Regions from separate parts of the Homo sapiens genome. Here region 1 is linked to region 2. Evidence: fine-mapped expression QTL. A gene starts in region 2. The other region holds a variant in brackets. All regions are shown on one strand. Distances are between the middles of the regions. Region 1 has its middle 7.6 kb from the start of RGL4. Region 2 holds the start of DRICH1 (aspartate rich 1).

Evidence for each region. PIP is the estimated chance that this variant, and not a neighbour inherited with it, causes the effect. A credible set is the group of variants that fine-mapping cannot tell apart.
Region 1: its variant is the best candidate, but not a certain one, in a credible set for the expression of DRICH1 in whole blood (TOPMed, PIP 0.60).

What each region holds. Positions count from the first base shown.
Region 1 is chr22:23,680,824-23,686,059 of GRCh38, reverse strand. It overlaps the pseudogene GUSBP11. Among named protein-coding and RNA genes, the nearest start is that of RGL4, 7.6 kb to the left of the region's middle. RefSeq lists a silencer at 604-898. The variant G/A (reference allele first, on the strand shown) is at 3,031.
Region 2 is chr22:23,629,795-23,635,030 of GRCh38, reverse strand. DRICH1 (aspartate rich 1) reads left to right here and starts at 2,710. Exons shown (of 12, transcript NM_016449.4): 1 at 2,710-3,215. The coding sequence starts at 3,008. LOC124905089 (a long non-coding RNA gene) reads left to right here. Exons shown (of 3, transcript XR_007068021.1): 3 at 2,121-2,155. RefSeq lists a silencer at 1,534-1,671.

The DNA of each region.
Region 1 (5,236 bases), 51 kb before region 2:
GTTTTGTTTTGTTTTGTTTGTTTCTTTTTTGAAAGCGGGACTTTGCAGTGTTGCCCAGGCCATAGTGCAGTGGCATGATCATGGGCACTGCACCCTTGATCTCCCAGGCTCAAGGAATCCTCCCTTCTCTGCCTCTCAAGTAGCTGGGACTATGGGCATGCACCACCATGCCATGCTAATTTTTGTGTTTTTTGTAGAGGTGGGGTCTCACTGTTCCACCCAGGCTGGTCTTAAAAGTCCTAGCCTCAAGCTGTCCTCCTGCCTCAGCCTCCCACAATGCTGAGTTGACAGATGTGAGCCACCATGTCTGGCCTGTTCCTTTGAAGAGCTCCCTTAGTGTTTCTAATGGGCATCCAAGCAAAGAAGATTTTGCTGGCAGAAGGCTCGTGGAACCCTACTGAGGCCGCATCTTCTTCACAGCCAGCAGATCATTCCCTGAAGTATCTGCTTAGCAGTGCACAGGCTATTTATATCCTGGGCTTTGGGTAGCTGTTGGGTTTGGGGACTGGCTGGCGCATGAGTATTGGCTCTGGGATCTGTCACAGCCTGGTCTTGTGGGACACCCAGTCTAGGATCCTCCTTCCCAGACCACCATTGTTCCTCTCACTGCCCCTATGGCAGGAGACCAAAGCCATGACCCCATGGTCAAAGGCATCCATGTGCAGGACTGAAGTTGAGTGACTCATGTGGGGAGGGGCGGGGCACAGCTGCTTGCTGGAAGGGTGTTGGGAAGTATTGGTCCATCAGCTGTCATGTCCACCTTTTCCTGCTGAATCCCAGCGATCCTCAGTGGTCTGAGAAGGGTGTGACACCTGGGTTCTTGGCTGGCTGAGCTGGTGCTTTTGCAGCCTCTTTGGGGCTCTTGTATGTGAGGTCTCACCTGAGTTGCTTCAGGAAACCTTTGACCCTCAGGCTACCTCCTGCTTAAGAGCAGAGCCTTTGTGTGGAGATCTGGCTGGCCTCTCTAGCATCCAGCCTGTCCTGTCCTGTTATGTCTCGGTTTGAGGTTGTGCTGAGGGGTCTCTTCCCATAGAGGAGGCAAGGCCAGTCGTGTGGGTCAGAGTGAAGCATGGCGATCCCAGCTGGCTGTGCCCGGCCTTTGACTGGAGGAGTCTGAGAATGACCAAGTCTGGGGAGCTGCCCTTCCTGGGAAACAGCATGTCTCCTCCCCTATTGTGGAGTTTCTGGATGTGATCCAGAGTGTGCTGGGCCTCTGTAGCATGTGCTGGGTGTAGCTGTGTGATTCAGGGTGGGAGGTGCAGGGGATCATCTGCTCTGAGCCAGATAAGGCCTGGACAGGACTGGCGGGCAGCCCTCGAAGCCAGGTTTGATGGGAGAGTAGGCACGGGTAGGGAGGGGACAGGGTCACCGGGGCTGTGTGTCACCTGTTCTTGCTGCTTTGTCTGCCCTGGGAGTGAGAACAGAGGTGGGCTGCTGTGGACCCACTTTGGCTTCCTGCAAGCAGGTGTTCATGTGGGGAGCAAGGCGGTTGGGTGGGGGACAAAGCTGGTCTCTGAGGTGTTGAGTGGTTCTTTGTCTGTCATTGTCCTTTTTCTCTCTGCCTTCCCCAACAGCTCTGCTGTAGCAGCCCATTGACCAAGTAGGTCACTCAGAGCATCCTGGTCCTACACATAAGCGTTAAGGCCCCTGAAGGGCCAGAGAAGGCTTAGGAGTTTCTCAAGAGTGAGCCCAGGGTGGGAGGGGGCCAGAGTCACTGAGAACAGCCCATTTGAAAAGTCAGGCAGAGGGATCCTGAGCCCTGAATATGCCTGCCTGGCCTGCGGTAACCATGCCAGCAGGGTCAGGGCATTTGGCCAATTGCTGTCTTGGTCGAGGCAGGAACATCTTGCTTCCCCAGCCCCTGTCTTTTTGTCTCCAGTATCCTTGGAGCAGCTGCAGGGTGGGTAGTGGGGTGTCTCTCCCAGCTGCTTGAAGAGATGAGCCTCCACCCGGCTGCCTCTGCCAGGGGAAACGAGTAATGACTGCAGCAGGGAGAAAAGCGAGCCCAGCCCCTTTTAGAATCAACCCTGCTGCTCCGATTCTAATTTTCAGTTCAGATTTTGCAGGCACGAGTGTGGGTCCCTGAGTACCTGCCCTTTGAATTCTTTTGGTGAGGACTGAGCATTCCCCCAGGAGCTTCTCATCGAACCCCAAAAACACGGCCCCCAATTCACCACCTCATCCCTTCCCAGGACCTGCTGAAGCTCACACCCGTGGACCACCCAGACTGCCTGCCGCTACAGGATGCCCTCCGCATCTCCCAGGACTTCTTTCCGGCATCAGTGTGGACATTGACCCCACTGGACTGCAGTCACAGTGGACTCCCAAGGGGCAGGTGAGCTCATGGCACAGCAAGGCCTCACGCTCAGGTTGAGGAGCCCAGAGTGGACCAGATCCCCAGTCCCTTCTCTGATGGCACAGGCATCTCTCTGTGCCCCTTGTCTCTGCAACCCTGATTCCCCATTCCCAGCCAAGGAGAGGTCTTCGATCCCTGGTCATGCTGATTTGATTCCCTGTGGCATTGTGGGCCCTAGGCTGAGAGCTTTAAGCCCAGTCTCTCAATAATCCTAAGAATCCAGTGAGCCAGAAGAGGGCACAGGACCAGAGAGTCTCTCCAGGTACGCCACACAGTCTTTGAGCTGTGTCAGAGCTGGATTGTTTACCTGGGGCTGGCTGTTTGGAGGCCCCAGGCATTGTCCCCCACACCAGGGAAGTTGGCCTGTGGGTAACTCGTTCTTGAATGCAGACACCTGCCTATGCCATCAGGGTGACCCAGGAGGGTGAGGGAGCAGGACATCTCAGCCACTTTAGATTGACTTGCATGAGCAAGAGCCAGGAAGGGAGCCCCACAGAGGGAAAGGCTGGTATTAGAGGTGGCCAAGGCCATCCAGGTTGCTGGAACATTCCACATGGGCTCCTGGATGTCAAACAGCAGTTTCCCTGGGGGCCCTTCTTGGTGGAAGGGTGGGGGTTAGTCCAGTGAGGAGAAACAACACTCAGCATGAGAGGCACAATTAACCCCTGTGGGTC[G/A]GCAGCCTGGCCCAGATCAAAGGCTTCCTGACCGATAGAGGTTGTTATGTGGCCCTGAGGAGTGAAGACTGCCTGGGTTCATGCTGCTTTGTTACATTTGTGAGTGAGGGGCAGGTCTGGAGAGTGTCTGATGGCGCATAAGGAGCTGTTTCTGTGCAGTTGTTGGTTCTGGTTTGCAAAACCATGGGATATCACTAGTTTGGTTTACTCTGGGGATATCTGAAAAATCTCTGGAAGACTTAGAGTAGCATCAGTTGTAGGTCATCTTAACTGTACGGTTTCAATGCACGCACCTACATCTCGCAGTGTACACAGGTCACACGGTGTGTCATAGAGACAGGAAAGACTGGGACAGATGGTTGCAGCCCCATGGAAGCCCCCCTGACTCTGAGGGTGGCTGAGGGGAAACTCTGGAAATCCTCATGGAGTAGAAACCATCCAGAGCCCAGGTGAGAGGTGGCTGCAGGTCCCCCCAGGACACTTCTGCAGCCCCAACCGAAGGCAGCCCGGGGTCTCCCATCCCCTGGGTATATTTGTTAAAAATGTGTCCATCATATATGAATTTGGGTTTGGTATTTGGTTCCCTCGTTGTGTCTTGTTCTGTATTTTTGTGTTAATGTCAATACCGTATTGTTTGGACCACTATAGCTCTTCTATGTCATTTGTAATCAGGGAGCATAATACATCCATGTACTTTGTATTTCCCAGTGATGAGATTGCTAGATGACATAGTAATTGTATTTTTAGTTTGAGGAGGAACTGCCAACTATTGCTCATAGTGTGTACGCCCATTTACATTCCCACCAGTAGTGTCTAAGAGTTTCCCTCTCTGTAAATTTACACTTGTGATTGCGTTTTAAAAATTCTGTTTTTGCTTTTGGCAACATTCATTTTATGTGGATGGGGACGCTGTCTTAGTGTGATTTGATTTAAATTTTTGTGATGATTAGTGATGTGGGCAAGCTTTTTTTTTTTACCTGTTCATTTCCTGCCTTCTTTTCAGAAATGTCTATCAGTTCTTTGCCCAAGTTTTGTTGGATTAGTTGGTTTTGTGTATTTTCCTACCTTATGTTAGTTTCTGGTATATGTCAGATGAACACCTTCAGCTCCATGATTCCTTATACTTACCGCCTCACAGCATCCTGTGCTCATTCTGTCTCTTCCGCTCAATGACCACTGCCTGTGTCCCATTCTTCTCCCTCCCCAGGGCAGGGCCCAGACCTCCTGCCTCCCATGGAAGCCTGGCCCAATGCGGGGCCAGCCACATGGCACAGTGTCCAGGGCCTTTCTGAGTGGTGGACAGGCCAGTTGGCATGGAAAATGGTGTCTGGGGTTTCTGAGTTGACTGTTGAATGCAGACTCAACCCACTCACAACCAGTCACCACCACTGCCACCCAAGCAAGCCACCTGGGAGCCTGGAAATTGCTCTGCCCACCTCTTGCCATGGGCACAGACACATACCATAGGGAGGACTGCCAACAGACCCAGCCCACCTGCCCCTGGTCCCCAAGGATGACATTCAGGGGCCTGGGGATCACCCCAGCCCACCAACCACAACCTGTGTCCATGCAGGCTCCCACAGGGCCTAAGGACAGGCTGACCCCTCCCAGAGAACCCCCACCCCACAAGTACCCAAGTACTTCACCCAGGGACCTGGGTATAGACCTGCCCTGCCTTCCACTTCTGGCATGTGCTTGCACCAGCAGGGGGCCTAACAACAGGCCAGACCACCTGATGCCAGCATCAGGTCCCATGCCATCGTGGGACCTGGGGATCACCCTGCTCTACCCATGAGCACCATCAGGGGCCCCGGGGCAGGTTCATCCCACCTGGCATATGTATGCATGAACTAGAAATGTGTTTGCCTGCTGGGCATGGTGGCTCACGCCTGTGATCACAGCACTTTGGGAGGCCAAGGCGGGTGGATCACCTGAGGTCAGGAGTTTGAGACCAGCCTGGCCAACATGGTGAAACCCTGTCTCTACTAAAAATACAAAAATTAGCCAGGCGTGCTGGCATGTGCCTCTAGTCCCAGCTACTCTGGAGGCTGATGCAGGAGAATCGCTTGAACTCAGGAGGCGGAGGTTGCAGTGGGCCAAGATTGCGCCACTGCTCTTCAGCCTGGGGGATAATCCGATTGAGACTCCATCTCAACAGCAAAAAAAAAAGTGAGAAAGAAAAATGTGTTTGCCGCTGTGATACTTT
Region 2 (5,236 bases):
CTACAGAGGTTTCTGTCCAACTTTCTACCAGAGAGCTCCATTTCAATGCGATACTTAAGAGTCCAAAACTATGTGGTGTTTTTTTTTTTTTTTTGAGACAGAGTCTCACGCTGTCACCCAGGCTAGAGTGCAGTGGCACAATCTCGGCTCACTGCAAACTCCGCCCCCCAGGTTTAAGCAATTCTCCTGCCTCAGTCTCCTGAGTAGCTGGGATTACAGGTGCCCATCATCGCACCCGGCTAATTTTTGTAATTTTAGTAGAAATGGGGTTTCACCATGTTGGCCAGGCTGATCTCGAACTCCTGACCTCATAATCCACCCAGCTCGGCCTTCCAAAGTGCTGGGATTACAGGCGTGAGTCATTGCACCCAGCCGAAAACTATCTTATTCCCCATACCTATTCCTCTTCCTACATTGTCTTTGTAGGAGACATTCACTGCTATTTACCCAGTCCTTCAAACTAGAGCCTTAGCAGCCTGTTTTTCCTTTTCCTTCCCCTGTTCTTCCACATCTAATCCTCTAGCACTTTCTGTTCTCTCTGCCAAATGATCACAGAACTTCTCTGTCCACTTCAGTCATTTCTACTTCCTTTGGCCTTATCTGTTCTTCCAGATGAACATAATGTCTCTCTCTCTTTTTTTTTGAGACAGAATCTCTCCCTGTTGCCCAGGCTGGAGTTCAGTGGTGTGATCTTGGCTCACTGCAACCTCCACCTCCTGGGTTCAAGCGATTCTCCTGCCTCAGCCCCTTGGGTAGATGGGACTACAGGTACCCGCCATCATGCCAGGCTAATTTTTGTATTTTTAGTAGACATGGGGTTTCACCATGTTGGCCAGGCTGGTCTCGAACTCCTGACCTCAAATGATCCACTCACCTTGGCCTCCCAACATCATGTCTCTTAATTGGTCCCACTGGTTCCATGAGTCCTTCTCTATTGTGCAGAGAGACCTCACTGCAAACACATCTGATAGAGACTCCTCACCTCTGTGTGGTTCCGTGACTCTCATGTTTCCAGAATAAAACTTAAACTCTACTTCAACTCTACTGCTGGACAGTGAATGAGCCTTTGTATTCCAGGTTCATCCACTGTTTTGCAGTGTAGCCTCAGACAACTGAACTCTAAGCCTTTGTTTGCTCATCTGCCTGAACTCACTGAGCAGTTGTGGGACCTTGGGGAAGTTACTTGACTTTTCCCTCTAGATTTACGCTGTAAGATGTGTAAAATGGGACTATTTCTGAGGGTTAAATTAGTATGCCACAGTTGGAACACTGTCAGGCACATAATGCTTGCCAGATATTGACTATTTGTCTTTGTCCTATGAGGACAATGGTACCCCACTGTGGGGTTCTCAATTTTGTATAAGAAAATAATGTTTTATGATTTGTTAGTAAAAGAAATACCTGAGGCTGGGCATGGTGGTTCATGCCTGTAATCCCAGCACTTTGGGAGGACGAGGCGGGTGGATCACCTGAGATGAGTTCAAGACCAGCCTGACCAACATGGTGAAACCCTCGTCTCTACTAGAAATACAAAAATTAGCCAGATGCGGTGGCGTGTGCCTGTAGTCCAGGCTACTCAGGAGGCTGAGGCTGGAGAATCGCTTGAACCTGGGAGGTGGAGGTTACAGTGAGCCGAGATCGTGCCACTGCACTCCAGCCTGGTCGACAGAGCAATAGTCCATCTCAAAAAATAAATAAATAAGTAAATAAAAGAAATATCTGAATACCCCTGCCATGGAAAGAAGAAACAGAGCGAGAAAAGGGAGTTGGTAGGTCGTAGCATTACAGAACTGGGAAGGATGTGTTCAGTCCCTATTTTATAGACGAGGAGGGAAGTGTGATGTGTCCCAGGGTTTCACTGAGGATACACAGCCATAACTCTCTATTGAGAGTGGGACCAGGGCCCTGGGGGTAGCTATGGTCAAGTTGCAGACAAGAACTAACACTTGTAAGACAGGAGAGAAGCATTTAATTAGAAAAGCAGTAAAAAATTTGTGTATAACTACATTTGGTGAGCAAATGAAAGCTGTCAGACTCAGAAAAACAGAACTGCTGGTGGAACTGACTTTAGTAACTGGGGTTTTCTTTCTTTTGTTTCTTTTTTTTTTTTTTTTTTAAAGACAGTTGCACCTTTGTCACCCAGGCTGGAGTGCAATGGTGTGATCTTGGCTCACTGTGCAACCTCCGCCTCCTGGATTCAAGCGATTCTCCTGCCTCAGCCTCCTGAGTAGCTAGGATTGCAGGTGCCCGCCACCAGGCCGAGCTAATATTTTGTATTTTTAGTAGAGACAAGTTTTCACCATGTTGGCCAGGCTGGTCTTGAACTCCTGACCTCAAGTGATCCACCCCCCCCGCTCAGCCTCCCAAAGTGCTAGGATTACAGGCGTGAGCCACCACTCCCGGCCATACCAGGGTTTTCTATTGAGTTTCTTGCCAAGGGTGACTCGCAATAACAACTCCCCCTGCACTTAGCTCAGGACTGGAAAGCTCAGGCAGCATAGGGTGAATAAAAGCCTGAGTAGTGCAGTCCCCACAGAGGGGCAGGGGGGCCACAAGGTGGGCAGCAGCAGGGACAGGCATTATGAGGCATTGGGGGGGGCTGTGGGGCTGGACATTGTGAGTCACTAGCCTGACCTGGCTGTTTCCTGGTAACCAGGTGACATAGGAAGCTTTGTGGGTTATAAGCATCAGCCAGGGCCAGCAGCCCTCAGTCAGTAGCTCGCAGTGGAGGGAGGAGGAGCTCCAACTGTGCTCTTTGATGGCAGTTTTTGCACCTTTGGGTGCTTGTCATGTTCGTTTATTTTTCAAAGAAGACAGCAGGTCCCTGACCTCATAGACCAGCTAGTTTGGGAGGTGGCGGCAGAATAAGGGCTGAGGACCCAGATCTGCCTGGGGTCAGGCTGCTTCTAAAAGTGCAGGGCCACCCTCAGTAGTGTGGCTGCTAGGGCAGCACAGTTACAATTTCGCTGAAGGCTGAGGCAGGAGTGGAGAGGCATGGAGAGGCCCCATGGGGAATATACTGACCTGTTGTATCAACTCCCACTGTGGCTGGCCCAGGGGGAAGGACGCACCCTGTTATGAATCTGATACTGATATTTATGAGACTGTGGCTGCTGCAACATCAGAATCCACTACTGTAGAGCCTGGCAAGCTGGATGTGGGAGCCACGGAGGGCCAAGACCTGCAGCACATCAGCAACCAAAAGATGCCCACAGGTAAAAAAGCCACGGGTGCCGTTTACCCTCTGGCACACCTCTGGCCACCCCCACCCCCTTCCCTTACCCTCATCCCCAGAGACATCCTCAGCTTCCAGCTCCCTCCTGTCCATAGCCAGCTTTCCCAGGTCTGGGCATGGGGGACAAAGGCTGACTCTGCCTCCTGTCTTTGTCGTTGAGACTTTTTGATCTAGAAAAGGGAGAGCCCTTTTCTCAATGAAAATTCAAATACCCCAATTTTGGAGTCCCCATCCCATTCTCTAGCCTCACCTATCTGGCCGGTTTGGTACCTAAATGAAGGAACCAGCTAAGGGTCAGATTGTTTTTCTTCCATCTCTTAAGGTAGCTTATTTTTTGTAAATTTTATTTATTATTTATTTATTTATTTATTTATTTATTTTAGATGGAGTCTTGCTCTGTTGCCCAGGCTGGAGTGCAGTGGCGGGATCTCAGCTCACTGCAACCTCTGCCTCCTGGGTTCAAGCGATTCTCTAGCATCAGCCTCCTGAGTAGGGACTACAGGTGCCCACTACCACGCCCGGCTAATTTTTTGTATTTTTAGTAGAGACGGGATTTCACTGTGTTAGCCAGAATGGTCTCGATCTCCTGACCTGGTGATCTGCCCGCCTCGGCCTCCCAAAGTGCTGTGATTACAGGCATGAGGCATCGCGCCCGGCTCCTAATTTAATTTTTTTTAAGTTCCGAGGTACATGTGCAGGATGTACAGGTTTGTTACGTAGGTAAAAGTGTGCCATGGTGGTTTGCTGCACCTGTCAACCCATCACCTAGGTATGAAGCCCTGCATGCATTAACTGTTTATCCATATTCTCTCCCTTCCCCTGCCCCCTGACAGGCCCCAGTGTGTATCATTCCCTGTCTAACACCGTACGTATTCTAAGACCACTCCTTTGCTGATGACAAATCTAAGTGATGGTTCGCAGGGGACTCTCTTCCCTGCTTCTGTCTGGAGAGCCTGCCTGGCTTCAGGTTCCTGATAGGAGTGAGGACCTGGAGTGCAGTGTGAGAAACAGATGGCTCAGTGAAGAACTGTCATCATCCACTAGAGTCCCTGGAAACAGCCGTGTCATTTAGATGATGTGGGTTTGTGTGCATGAGGGTTGGGAGATAGCCAGGGGTGAATTAATGTGTAGTGTTTGTAAATGTGTGTTTTCCCCCAAAAATGTGGACCCGCATGCCCAGCACAAGTGCAAGTGTCAGTTTTCTTGAATTCCTGGCCTATGGTGGTCCTCTCACCTCAGCCTCCCAAGTCATGTCATTCTTCTAATAAAAAGGAAGAAAAACTTCAGCACCACCATACACTTTACATAAATGACCTCTTTTTCACTCAACACAGTGTACCTGAAGGTCAGTTTAATATCCCTACTTCTTAGAGAGAGAGAGAGTGTGGAAAGGAATGAACCCAGATTTTGACCTCCTGAATGGAAGAGGCAAAAGTGAACCCAGAAATGGGTCCCGATGTTGATGGTCTGCATTACTCAACCGTGTCATCACTCCACCGTGATATATGACCCCACACCAGGGAGTTCCAGCACCTATGCGTGCCCCTGGTAGTGGTAGTGGATGGCCTATAAGTGTGCCAAACATTGCCCACCATCAGATGGGGCCCCAGTGGTCACATAACTCTGGGTAGCAAAAGGTACACGGAACAATAGACGTTGGCATGGGCATTACTGTGAAATACACATAGAAAGCTCACAGGCTTCTGGTCAGCTCACAGATTCTGAGAAGTGTAAGGGATCACATGGAACAGTGCAGGTCAACATCTGTCAGTGCTGGGGTCATTCCTCAGCACTTGGTCAAAGCAGGGAAGGATCAGGAAGATATTGCATTGTATTTAGTAACATGAGTACCTCAAGCCTTAGAAATGCTCCAATCCATGGCCGGGCACGGTGGCTCACACCTGTAATCCCAGCACTTTGGGATGCCAAGACAGCAGATCACCTGAGGTCAGGAGCTTGAGACCAGCCTGGCCAACATGGTAAAAACCTGTCTCTAATAAA